Linked DNA regions of Homo sapiens. The protein of the gene in region 1 interacts with the protein of each later gene in a pairwise test. Each region holds a gene or a part of one and is shown in the gene's direction. Other genes may lie near its edges.

Region 1 (3,752 bases):
AGAGAGGACTAGAATATCCTTTTGGGGCCACTGGGTGGGGAGGGGTCTTGAATTTAAAGTCTTACAATTCACCAAAGCTAATGGATATGTGACACTGGGCTCAGACATCATAAATCTGGTGTTTTCAGGTAATGCAGATACTGGCCCCCTGGAAACACAAGACTGGAGCTCAAGCGAGAAAGTACAATTGGAACTAAAATTTGGGAGTCATTGCCAGATGAATGATTGTTGGGTTCTCTGAAAGAGAAAGAGTTCAAGGGCAGAACCTTAGGGCAGTGTCTGAACAGGGGACAAGAAGAAAAGAAAGTCCAGGGCTGGGTGCGGCAACTCATTCCTGTAATCCCAGCACTTTGGGAGGTCAAGGCGGGAGGATCTCTTGAGCCCAGGAGTTTGAGACCAGCCTGGGCAACATAGAAAGACCTCATATCTCCAAAGATTTTTTTTTTTAAGTTACTCAGGTGTGGTGGTGTGCTCCTCTGATCAGAGCTACTCAGGAGGCTAAGGTGGGAGGGTCCCTTGAGCCCAGGAGATTGAAGCAGCTACAGTGAGCCATGATCATGCCACTGCACTCCAGCCTGGGTGACAGAGCAATACCCTGTCTCAAACACAAAACAAACAAAAAAGAAAACAGAGTTCAGGGAGGGAGAAGGGGGCACATGCAAGCAGGCAGCCATGTGCAGAGCTGGGCATCCAGAAGCGGGGGCCCTCCACCTCCTGGGCGAACTCGAAAACCACCACCACAGAACATAAGCTATTGTACTTAGAATTATTCAAAGGCCAGTTGTTATTCTGGAGTTTGCTGGATTAATTTATTTTTTAAAATTTTGCAGATGGACCTTTTTCATCTCTTTGATGACTTCACACGCTATAATTAAACACATTTTGGTTGTGAGCACATTATCAAAGATATTAGAAGCAAAGAAGGGAGGAGAATGAGAATTTTGCAAACTGTTGAAGATAAAAGTTGAGGGCCTTTATTTAGGATGCAGTAATTACCAGTGTTTGAATTTTGGAGGGAGGTATAGAGGTAGAGCAGTTGCTCATAGCTGAATGAGATCTACAGGTATGAACCATAACACAAAGCCATTAATCTTTTAAAAAAAAATGTGTTTTAACTAACGTTGGAACTCTTTCTGATACTCATCTCTCCATGTCCTTGATCTTAACATAAAGTGCAGATGTGACACATTTGTTGGCTGATATATTATAGCTGATATAGAATTGATTGAGAATTACAGAGATCCTCAATTCTCATGGAAAACTGTGAAAGATAGACTCCTGCAACACACTAAGATGGTGCTTCTCAAAGTGTATCCCCAAACAAGCAGCATCCACATCACCTGAGAACTTATCAAAGCAAATTCTCAGGCCCCAACCCAAACCTAGTGAATCACAAACTCTGCAAACAGTGTTTTCAACAGCCCTCCAGGCCATTGTAATGTATGGGAAAGTTTGAAAAGCTGCCCTCGGAGGCCTGGAAGGTATACTGAATTTATGTCACTTCAAGCAGTTTGCTTGTTTTAAGATATCTCTGCTGAAAGTGTCCTGAAGAGGACTGGTTCTTTGAAGGTCTTAGTTATGCTTTTTCTGTGAGTATTTAGAATTAATTAAACGAAATGGCTGCAGATTTTAGCCCCAAAATGGAAAAGTTAATGAAAGTCACAGTGTTGTCTCTTATAAAAATTTTAAATGGGCTGGGAGCGGTGGCTTACACCTGTAATCCCAGCACTTTGGGAGGCCAAGGCGGGCAGATCACGAGGTCAAGAGATCGAGACCATCCTGGCCAACATGGTGAAACCCAATCTCTACTAAAAATACAAAAATTAGCTGGGTGTGGTGGCACGCCCCTATAGTCCCAGCTACTCTGGAGGCTGCGGCAGGAGAATCGCTTGAACCCCGGAGGCAGAGGTTGCAGTGAGCCGAGATCGTGCCACTGCACTCCAGCCTGGTGACAGAGCAAGACTCTGTCTCAAAAAAAAAAAAAAAAAAAAAAATTAAATGGCATTGGTTTCATTTCAGAACAAAAGTAGAGTATTTCATTATTACTGAAATTATAACTTTGCCACTGTCCTTCATAAAAGAAACTGAATAAAATATGTACCATTGGCCGGGTGCAGTGGCTCATGCCTGTAATCTGAGCACTTTGGGAAGCCAAGGTGGGTGGATCACTTGAAGTCAGGAGTTCAAGACCAGCCTGGCCAACATTGTTAAACCCCATTTCTACAAAAATTACAAAAACTAGCTGGGTATAGTGGCATGCCCCTGTAATCCTAGCTACTTGAAAGGCTGAGGCAGGAGAATTGCCTGAATCCGGGAGGCAGAAGTTGCAGTGAGCCGAGATCGTGCCACTGCACTCCAGCCTGGGTGATAGAGCAAGACTCTGTCTCAAAAACAAACAAACAAACAAATACACGCACACACACACACACACACACACATATATATACTGTAATGCTTAATACCTAATTATATATATTATATATTTATGCACACATATAGTATAAAACATTTTTCTGCATTTCAGGTCCAAACTGCTTTGCAGAAACCGCGGTGATCCCTGCTGGCAGAGAAGTGAAGACTGACGAGTGCACCATATGCCACTGTACTTATGAGGAAGGCACATGGAGAATCGAGCGGCAGGCCATGTGCACGAGACATGAATGCAGGCAAATGTAGACGCTTCCCAGAACACAAACTCTGACTTTTTCTAGAACATTTTACTGATGTGAACATTCTAGATGACTCTGGGAACTATCAGTCAAAGAAGACTTTTGATGAGGAATAATGGAAAATTGTTGGTACTTTTCCTTTTCTTGATAACAGTTACTACAACAGAAGGAAATGGATATATTTCAAAACATCAACAAGAACTTTGGGCATAAAATCCTTCTCTAAATAAATGTGCTATTTTCACAGTAAGTACACAAAAGTACACTATTATATATCAAATGTATTTCTATAATCCCTCCATTAGAGAGCTTATATAAGTGTTTTCTATAGATGCAGATTAAAAATGCTGTGTTGTCAACCGTCCTCACCGTGTACCTGCATATCTTTTTCAGTTCTGATTCCATCACCCAGGAATGTTCCCCCTGCACATTTTCACAGGGCAGAGTCACGCATGAATGGATCATAAGATATTAGGACCAATTTCCACTGAAACCCTGTTTAAATTCTATTTAATTACAGACATATCTCTAATGTTGATGTCTACTTCACATAAATATATTTCCTTTTTATAATAATATATGGCTTTTATCTGCTTCATTCTCAGTCACTTGTGAAATGCAGGTGTAAAGATCACTAACTCACACTTTCTCAGTTCTTTCCCCTAAGCTCCTGTATTGTACACCATAGGTAAGCACATACATATATTTCATTCTTATTTACATTATTTTCTCTTCTAAGGATAACTTTAATTCATTCCCTAAACTGAGGAATAAAGTAGGCTGGAAAATTTGCATTACTGTTCCATCAAGCTGAAGCAGACAACAAAATAGGGGAGGAGTCCTTCGATTCTCCTAGGATAGTTAAGGAAAATCAAACTCCTAAACAAGTTTATATACCTGAAATCTAAATGTGCTACAGATAACTCAGCTGTCAGTTCAGTGGAATCATATTTGTCATCAGACTTGAGTCATCTATCCTCCATAAACTACACAGTAAAATCTTGACTGATAACCTTGAATTAGCCACCCTTCACAAGCAGAGTGAGGAAGCAGTTATTTTGTTAAAACAAAGCTGAAGACCAA
Region 2 (3,752 bases), on another chromosome or scaffold:
AAAATACCAGTTAACATAAAACATCTTTAAAATGAGAAGGAGTATAATAAATTATTCCAGTTCTACAATTTTATAGACAAGAAGCCAAGGTTCACAGAGGTGAAAGGACCTGCCTGAGGTCCCTTAGTTGTGCAGAACTATGAGAAGGATCTTGAGGTCCCCAGATCTTGAGGTCCCAGGGCCCCTTCCTCTCAAGGTCACAAGATCCCACATTCCAGGCAGTGTTGTCCCTATTCATACACAACACAAGGTAAACTTGTGGGAGGCCAAGGCTGGAAGGACTGCTTGAGGCAAGGAGTTTGAAACCAGCCTGAGCAACATAGTGAGACTTCATCTCTACTATGTTGTAGAAAATTAAAAAAAAAAAAAAAATAGCTGGGCATAGTGGGTAAGGCAGGAGGGTTCCTTGAGCCCAGGAGTTCAAAGTTGCGGTGAGCTGTGATTGCACCACTGCACTCCAACCTGGGTGACGGGGCAAGAGTCTGTCAAAAACAAAAACAAAAAAGAAAGAAAAAAGAAAAAAGCCAAGGTAAATCGTACGTCTTAGACATGTGCAAAATGGCAGTGATGTTTTCATTTCACCTCTGTACACTAAAATACAAACAGACAATGAGTACTTTTCTTCTATGCAGTTTGAAAATACATGAACATTTTTATGGGGTTACAAGGAAGTATAATAATTAGCGGTGGAGTTCTAGAAGAATATTTTTAAAATGTGTGTCAAGGCATAGTAGGGGTATGAATGTGTCAGAATTAGCTAAGGAAGGTTCTGTGAGAAACTACATTTTCTTTTTCTTTTCTTTTTTTTTTTTTTTTTTCTTGAGACAGGGGCTGGCTCTGTCACCCAGACTGGATTGTAGTGGCGCCATCTTGGCTTACTGTGATCTCCGCCTCCCAGGCTCAAGCAATTCTCCTGCCTCAGCCACCCAAGTGGCTGGAACCACGGGTGCGCACCACCAAACCCAGATATTTTTAAGGAATTTTTTAGTAGAGATAGGGTTTCACCATGTTGCCCAGGCTGGTCTCGAATTCCTGAGCTCAGGCTACTGGCCTTCCTTGGCCTCCCAAAGTTGTGGGATTACAGGCGTGAGCCACAGTGCCCAGCCAGGAGCTACATTTTCTAGATTTTTTGTTCACATCCTCTAACTTGCTTCTCATAAGGGGAAGCCAAAGATTAGAATAAACTTCCAGGCCCTAGAATTAGACCTCTTAAGAAATCATTTATGTCCATTAGATTATTTCTGTTCGGTTTTTATTCTTTCCTATCACCAAGGAGGTTAATGTCTTCAACTGTCTGAGGAACTACACAAAGTTTACACTCAGAAAGCCCCTCCGCATGTCTACCCTGAATCTTTCTCGCTGCAGTTTAAATCACAGATGCTTCTATGATTGCTTTAGTGGATGTGGATTGACCAAGTCATGGGGAATAAACTCCTGCTTTGTTTTCTTTTGAAGAAGGTTCTCCATCTTCAGACTATAGAGCTTCTTCTCAAATACCAGGTACTTTGTACCTTTCCATTGTATCATATACACATGGATGAATTTAGGAAATTGACTTCTAAAAAGTGAATGAAAAAGAGGAGTAACATAGATGTTCTGAAACAGAAGTGACAGGAGGAGAAAATAGAAAGTTATTTACTATTTTCAAAGCAACTAAGTAGAAAGGTTGATGAAAGAGAGAAAAAAAAGCTGTCACTGAATGATATTTCCATTGGAGGGGAAAATAGGTACCAACAAATGAAAATTGCCTCATCTTTACAAGTTTCACTGAGCATGAAAATGTCCCTTTAAAATTTCCCATAAGCCATGGCTGGCTATGGGATTTTTCCAGTGCAAAGGGAATCTGAGTTCAGGAGGCCAGGGAATGCCAGGGGGAAAGGGATTTTCTGATACTCAGAAGACTCAGAGACTGTCAGTTTAAAAAATGAAAGTAATATAGAAGGGGCAAAGTGGCATTTATCATTCTATCTCTCCAGGCTCCTGTCTCTTTAATCAGCTAGCCTGATTTGCCCAGTAAATGATTCCTGAGAGTGTGTGTGCGTGTGTGTGTGTGTGTGTGCCCGCGCGCGTGTGTTGTAGCTCTGTCAATCCTTGGATTAGAACCAATGATTGCAGCTTGTAGGAGGGCTGTCCAGGGCCAGATTGTACAATGTGTCTCAGTGCCAGAGTATGAGTGGAGATAATTACGGAGAAGTCATACTCTCTCACACCCTCGGCTTTCTTGTTGTGTCCTTCAGCAAAACAGTGGATTTAAATCTCCTTGCACAAGCTTGAGAGCAACACAATCTATCAGGAAAGAAAGAAAGAAAAAAACCGAACCTGACAAAAAAGAAGAAAAAGAAGAAGAAAAAAAATCATGAAAACCATCCAGCCAAAAATGCACAATTCTATCTCTTGGGCAATCTTCACGGGGCTGGCTGCTCTGTGTCTCTTCCAAGGTAAGAGCTTGCTATTGATTTGCCTTCGGTAGACCCAGGAATTGTACAGTGTGCTTTATAAGATTTGCAGACTCCCCGAGTCGGCTGTGCTGCGCTGTTTGCAGGTGGAGGAGAGAGCGTTTAGACAGCATGGCTGGGACTTCATTCTCCCGACTAGGCTGTGAGAATATTGATTTGATTCTGGCTGCTACCGGAATGGGGGAATATGTATGTGCATAAGTAAAATGTGTTTGGTGCTCCTGTTAGGACTGTGCTTGTGTGCAAGGCTCCCTGGCTTCATGCACATTCTTGCACACATACACAACGGAGCACACATGTAAGCAGGGGGAAATGACAGATTCGGAGGGCAACAGGGTTGCTAATGTGTTGCTTATGCGACTGGGAAGAAATTACAAGAGGAAACTTTAAATATCGGCCAGCGAACTTGCAAAGCTTTTAAAAGGAGCAAAGGGGAAAATGCAGGCTAGAAAGAATCAGGTGCTTCCTGTGAGGTTCTGGTCAGCGATCCAGCTGCAAGGGATGAGTCAATTTGCAGCAGTGGGGGACAACTGTATTAGTTTTAAATGTGTTCGGGGGTGTGTTTGTGGCTGGGGTCGGAGGTGTGGAAGCGAGGGGAGCCGGGGCTCTGAAATTCTAAAAAGCTTTTCGAAGTTGAAGGGAGAGAGGCAATAAGAGTCGAATGCTAATTTTCTGTTTATTTATCGGCTGAGCCGGGAGCCCTGGGGGCTGCAGTTGAGTGCAAGCTTTGATGTCCCCAGTGCTGTGTTCTGTGCATTTGGAATCGGCCTCCACCTTGAGTCCATTTGCTGCACCGTGCCTCCCCACACCCCATCCCGGCTCTCACGTCTGTTCGTTCCAGCAACAGAATTATCCACTAATCTTCTTGCTCCCACCTGCCCTGTCCTTTGGGGTAACTAGTTTGCCTCTTTTATATTAAACACAGCTAAAACTCGTAAGGATCGAGACAAGCTGAGAAACTTTCCCAGGGTGGCCCAGCAGGGCTCCGGGAGGAGGAGCCCTCTCTTGGGAGGTGAGGCTCAGTCCTATGCAGTTGTATTCCCAGAGGAAAGTTCCCTCTGACCCGGTGAAAAACGATGGGGAGTCCCACCCCCTCGCCCTCTTCTCCCCCTGCAATATGGAGTTCTCCTGATCTGGACTGAGTCCTGAGCTGTAGTCCTGCTGGCTCTTCTCCGAGGTTAGGATTTAGGGATTGCTGCTGTCCTCTTGACATAGGTTGCAGTGGCTGCAGTGTGGATCCACGTAAGGTGGGCAGAGAGACCAGGCTGGAAGGATCAAATGTGTACACCCTTGACT
Region 3 (3,752 bases), on another chromosome or scaffold:
CAGGAAGATGTCACTTTAGGAAGAAGCATGAATTATTTTTACCTGAAGTCTCAGTTTCCATTACATTATACCCTCACTACCACTTAACATGTATGGCAGAAGCATATAATTTAATTGACTTTTTGTATATTGCAGTTCAAAGATATATGGGGATGGAAATGCTGTTCCAAGGATTTTGAAGTTTCTCAAATCTATCGATCTTCAAGAGCCACTGCAAAAGAAATTCTGCTTTCCTCCTGTGAAGGAGAATATCTCTCAAGATATTGACCATATTCTTGAAACTCTAAGTGCCTTGGCCGTTGATCTTGGCGGGACGAACCTCCGAGTTGCAATAGTCAGCATGAAGGTAAAATAACTCCTAAACTCCTAACTTTATATCCCATATGAGCGATTGATTTTTTTTTTAAGTATATATAGTTGGAAGGTAAGACTAGAAACATACACAAGAGCTTGTAATCATTTGCTGATAGTATTGACTTGTGGATCCTTTACAATGTTTGTCTCACTATTTTACTGATCATTAACATTTCAAAGAAGTAAATTCTTTGGGAATCCAAGACGGTAGACTTGACAGTGGGAAGACCCCTTTAGGCATCAGATCGGGCTTTTGCCACCCAAAAGACCTGAAATTCTATACTTGGTAACAGCTTGGAGTGTGGAGTATGCTGATTACTATCACTGCCCAGGTGAGGGGTATCAGCAAATGGTGAAGGGAGCTGCCTCTTCTCTAGAATGTGATCAGTTGTGTGGATTTTCCATTTTGCATTTTTACAGTTCTGCTCTTTATTGAGTACAGCATACCTTCAATCTGTTAACCAAACCATCACCCAGTGTTGACAGGTGAGAGAACATTCATAAAAATAACAAACTGTTCATGTTAAAGTGATCTCTAATGACTTAGAATAAACCTACTAGAAAAATCTTGGTTTGAAATAGTGTGAGTGTATAAAGCTTCCAGAGACGATGAGAAATAGCAAAGATTTTAAATGTAAAGTTGTAGGAAATTTATTAATACCATTAGGTCAAATAAGGAAAGCAAAACAAAACATAATTTTCTCAAGAAAAGCCAAGAGGCCTCCCTTATAAATACTCTTTTAAAAACTAATAGAAGGCTGGATGCAGTGGCTTACGCCTGTAATCCCAGCACTTTGGGAAGTCCAGGTGGGCAGATCACTTAAGGTCAGGAGTTTCAGACCAGCTTGGACAACATGGTGAAACCCTGTTTCTACTAAAAATACAAAAAAAAAAAAAAAATTAGCTGGGCATGGTGGCAGGCACCTGTAATCCCAGCTACTTGGGAGGCTGAGGCAGGAGAATCGCTTGAACCCAGGAGGTGGAGATTACAGTGAGCCAAGATCGCACCACTGCACTCCAGCCTGGGCAACAGAGTGAGACTCCATCTCAAAAAACAAAACAAAAACTAATAGAAGAATAGTTTCTTAACAGAAAGATGATTTATTCCATATGAAAGGCCAACATCTTTTTCAATGGTGAAATTCTAGAGGCATTCCCATTGAAATCAAGAAGAAAAGAAAGATGTTTTGTGCAGCATTATCTCACATAATTTTGGAAGTTATGAGGGAATAAAGGAAGGAATAGCAAAAATGGAGATTATTGATAGGGTAAAACAAAAAACATTATTAATAGACAAAAAAATGCTTGGCTCCCACCCTGGACTGGTTAAATTAGAGTCTCTGGGGATGGGGGCCAGGCATCGCTCTTCGTTAAAAGCTGTCCAGGTGATTCTGATGCACAGCGAAGATTGAGAAGCACTACTCTAGATTTTTTATTCTCTTAATTTAAAAAAATTTTTTTTTAGAGACAAGGTCTTCCTATGTTTCCCAGACTGGACTCAAGGTCCTGGGCTTAAATGGTCCTCTGCCTCAGCCTCCCAAGTATAATAGCTAGGACCACAGGCACATGCCACTGTGCCCAGCTCTAGATGTATTTTTGTTTTTTGAGACTGAGTCTTGCTCTGTCGCCCAGGCTGGAGTGCAGTGGCGTGATCTCGGCTCACTGCAACCTCTGCCTCCCGGGCTCAAGTGATTTTTGTGCTTCAGCCTCCTGAGTAGATGGGACTACAGGCTTATGCCAGCATGCCTGGCTAATTTTTGTATTTTTTGTAGAGACAGTGGTTCACCATGTTGCCCAGGCTGGTCTTGAACTCCTGGGCTCAAGGGATCTGCCAGCCTCGACCTCCCAAAGTGCTGGGATTACAGGTGTGAGCGACCGTGCCTGACCTAGATTTATTTTTAATGACAATCCTAGTGACAGCTCTAACCCTATATTTGAGATATAAAAATCCACTAATAACAAAATAATATAAATGGAAAGAGAGATCTTATTCAGAACAACAACAAAAACTCCTAAGAATAACTGAAACCAGGAACGATGTAATCTATATAAAGAAAATTCTAAAACTTTACTGTAAGACATAAAGTCTTGAAAAAAATGCCCTGGATGGAAGTGCTGATTATTTTTAAGATGTCAGTGTTTTCCCAATTTGATTTATAAGATCAACATAATCTAGTAAATATTTCAATGGTATTTGTTTTACATTTAGTAAAATTATTGTAAATCACAGTGGAATTTCTCAAAGTTTAACATTAAAAGTACAAAAGTCAGTTGTGCAAAGAAAAAAGATAAAGACAAGTAATCAGGAGGGACTATCCCTGTTTGGTATTAAAACATATCAAAAAGCACAGTAATGTGTTTTATTTTTTTGAGACAGGGTTTCACTCTGTCGCCCAGACTGGAGTGCAGTGGTATGATCTCGGCTTACTGCAACCTCTGCTTCCTGGGTTCAAGCGATTCTCCAGCCTCAGCCTCTCAAGTAGCTGAGACTACAGGCGTGTGCCACCACGCCCAGCTAATTTTTGTATTTTTTATAGAGATGGGATTTCCTCTTATTGCGCAGGCTGGTCTTGAACTCCTGAGGTCAAAGTGATCTACCTGCCTCGGCCTCTCAAAGTGCTGGGATTACAGGCGTGAGCCACCACGGCCGGCCATATAATAATTTAAACAATGTGGTATTTCTGCCAGCCAGGATGGAAATTTACCCTAAGGAAATAGAGTATCCAGACCATCACTGAATTCAGTTACAGGAGATGATTAAAGCTCAGCTACTTAGTTGCCTCAGTGTTTTTTTGTTTTTGTTTTTGAGAAAGGGTCTCACTCTGTTGCCCAGGCTGGAGTGCAGTGGCGTGATCTCAGCTCACCGCAGCCTGAACTTCCCAGGCTCAAGAAATCCTCCCAGCTTAGCCTCCCAAGTAGTTGGGACTACAGGCATGTGCCAACATGCCTGGCTAATTTTTTGTAGAGAGGAGGTCTCACTGTACCTCCCAGGCTGGTTTTAAACTCCTGGGCCCAAGCGATTCTCCCGCCTTGGCCTCCCAAAGTGCCGGGATTACAGGCGTGAGCCACTATGCCCGGTCACCTCAGTAAGCAAGAAAGTTTTGTCAACCTGAAAGAGTAAACTATGGTCTTTTAATGAACTAGGCTCAAATTAGCGAACATTGAACTTAAGCTTAAGAAAGGGGCCCGGCCGGGGGCAGTGGCTCACGCCTGTAATCCCAGCACTTTGGGAGGCCGAGGCAGGCGGATTGCTTGAGGTCAGGAGTTTGAGACCAGCCTGGGCAGCATGGTGAAACCCCATCTCTACTAAAAATACAAAAATTAGCCGGGCGTGGTGGCAGGCACCTGTAATCCCAGCTACCTGGGAAGCTGAGGAAGGAGAATCGCCTGAACCTGGG

The links.
Region 2: the proteins of VWC2 (region 1) and NTM interact in binary tests that used the Homo sapiens proteins (3 or more experiments, as listed by UniProt).
Region 3: the proteins of VWC2 (region 1) and GNE interact in binary tests that used the Homo sapiens proteins (3 or more experiments, as listed by UniProt).

Annotation. Positions count from the first base shown.
Region 1 is NC_000007.14:49,909,510-49,913,261, forward strand, and holds part of VWC2 (brorin precursor), read left to right. Parts: intron 1-2,524; coding exon 2,525-2,676; 3' UTR 2,677-3,752. UniProt on the Homo sapiens protein: BMP antagonist which may play a role in neural development. Promotes cell adhesion.
Region 2 is NC_000011.10:131,368,451-131,372,202, forward strand, and holds the start of NTM (neurotrimin isoform 9 precursor), read left to right. Parts: upstream 1-2,164; 5' UTR 2,165-2,356; coding exon 2,357-2,438; intron 2,439-3,752.
Region 3 is NC_000009.12:36,223,842-36,227,593, reverse strand, and holds part of GNE (bifunctional UDP-N-acetylglucosamine 2-epimerase/N-acetylmannosamine kinase), read left to right. Parts: intron 1-135; coding exon 136-346; intron 347-3,752. UniProt on the Homo sapiens protein: Bifunctional enzyme that possesses both UDP-N-acetylglucosamine 2-epimerase and N-acetylmannosamine kinase activities, and serves as the initiator of the biosynthetic pathway leading to the production of N-acetylneuraminic acid (NeuAc), a critical precursor in the synthesis of sialic acids.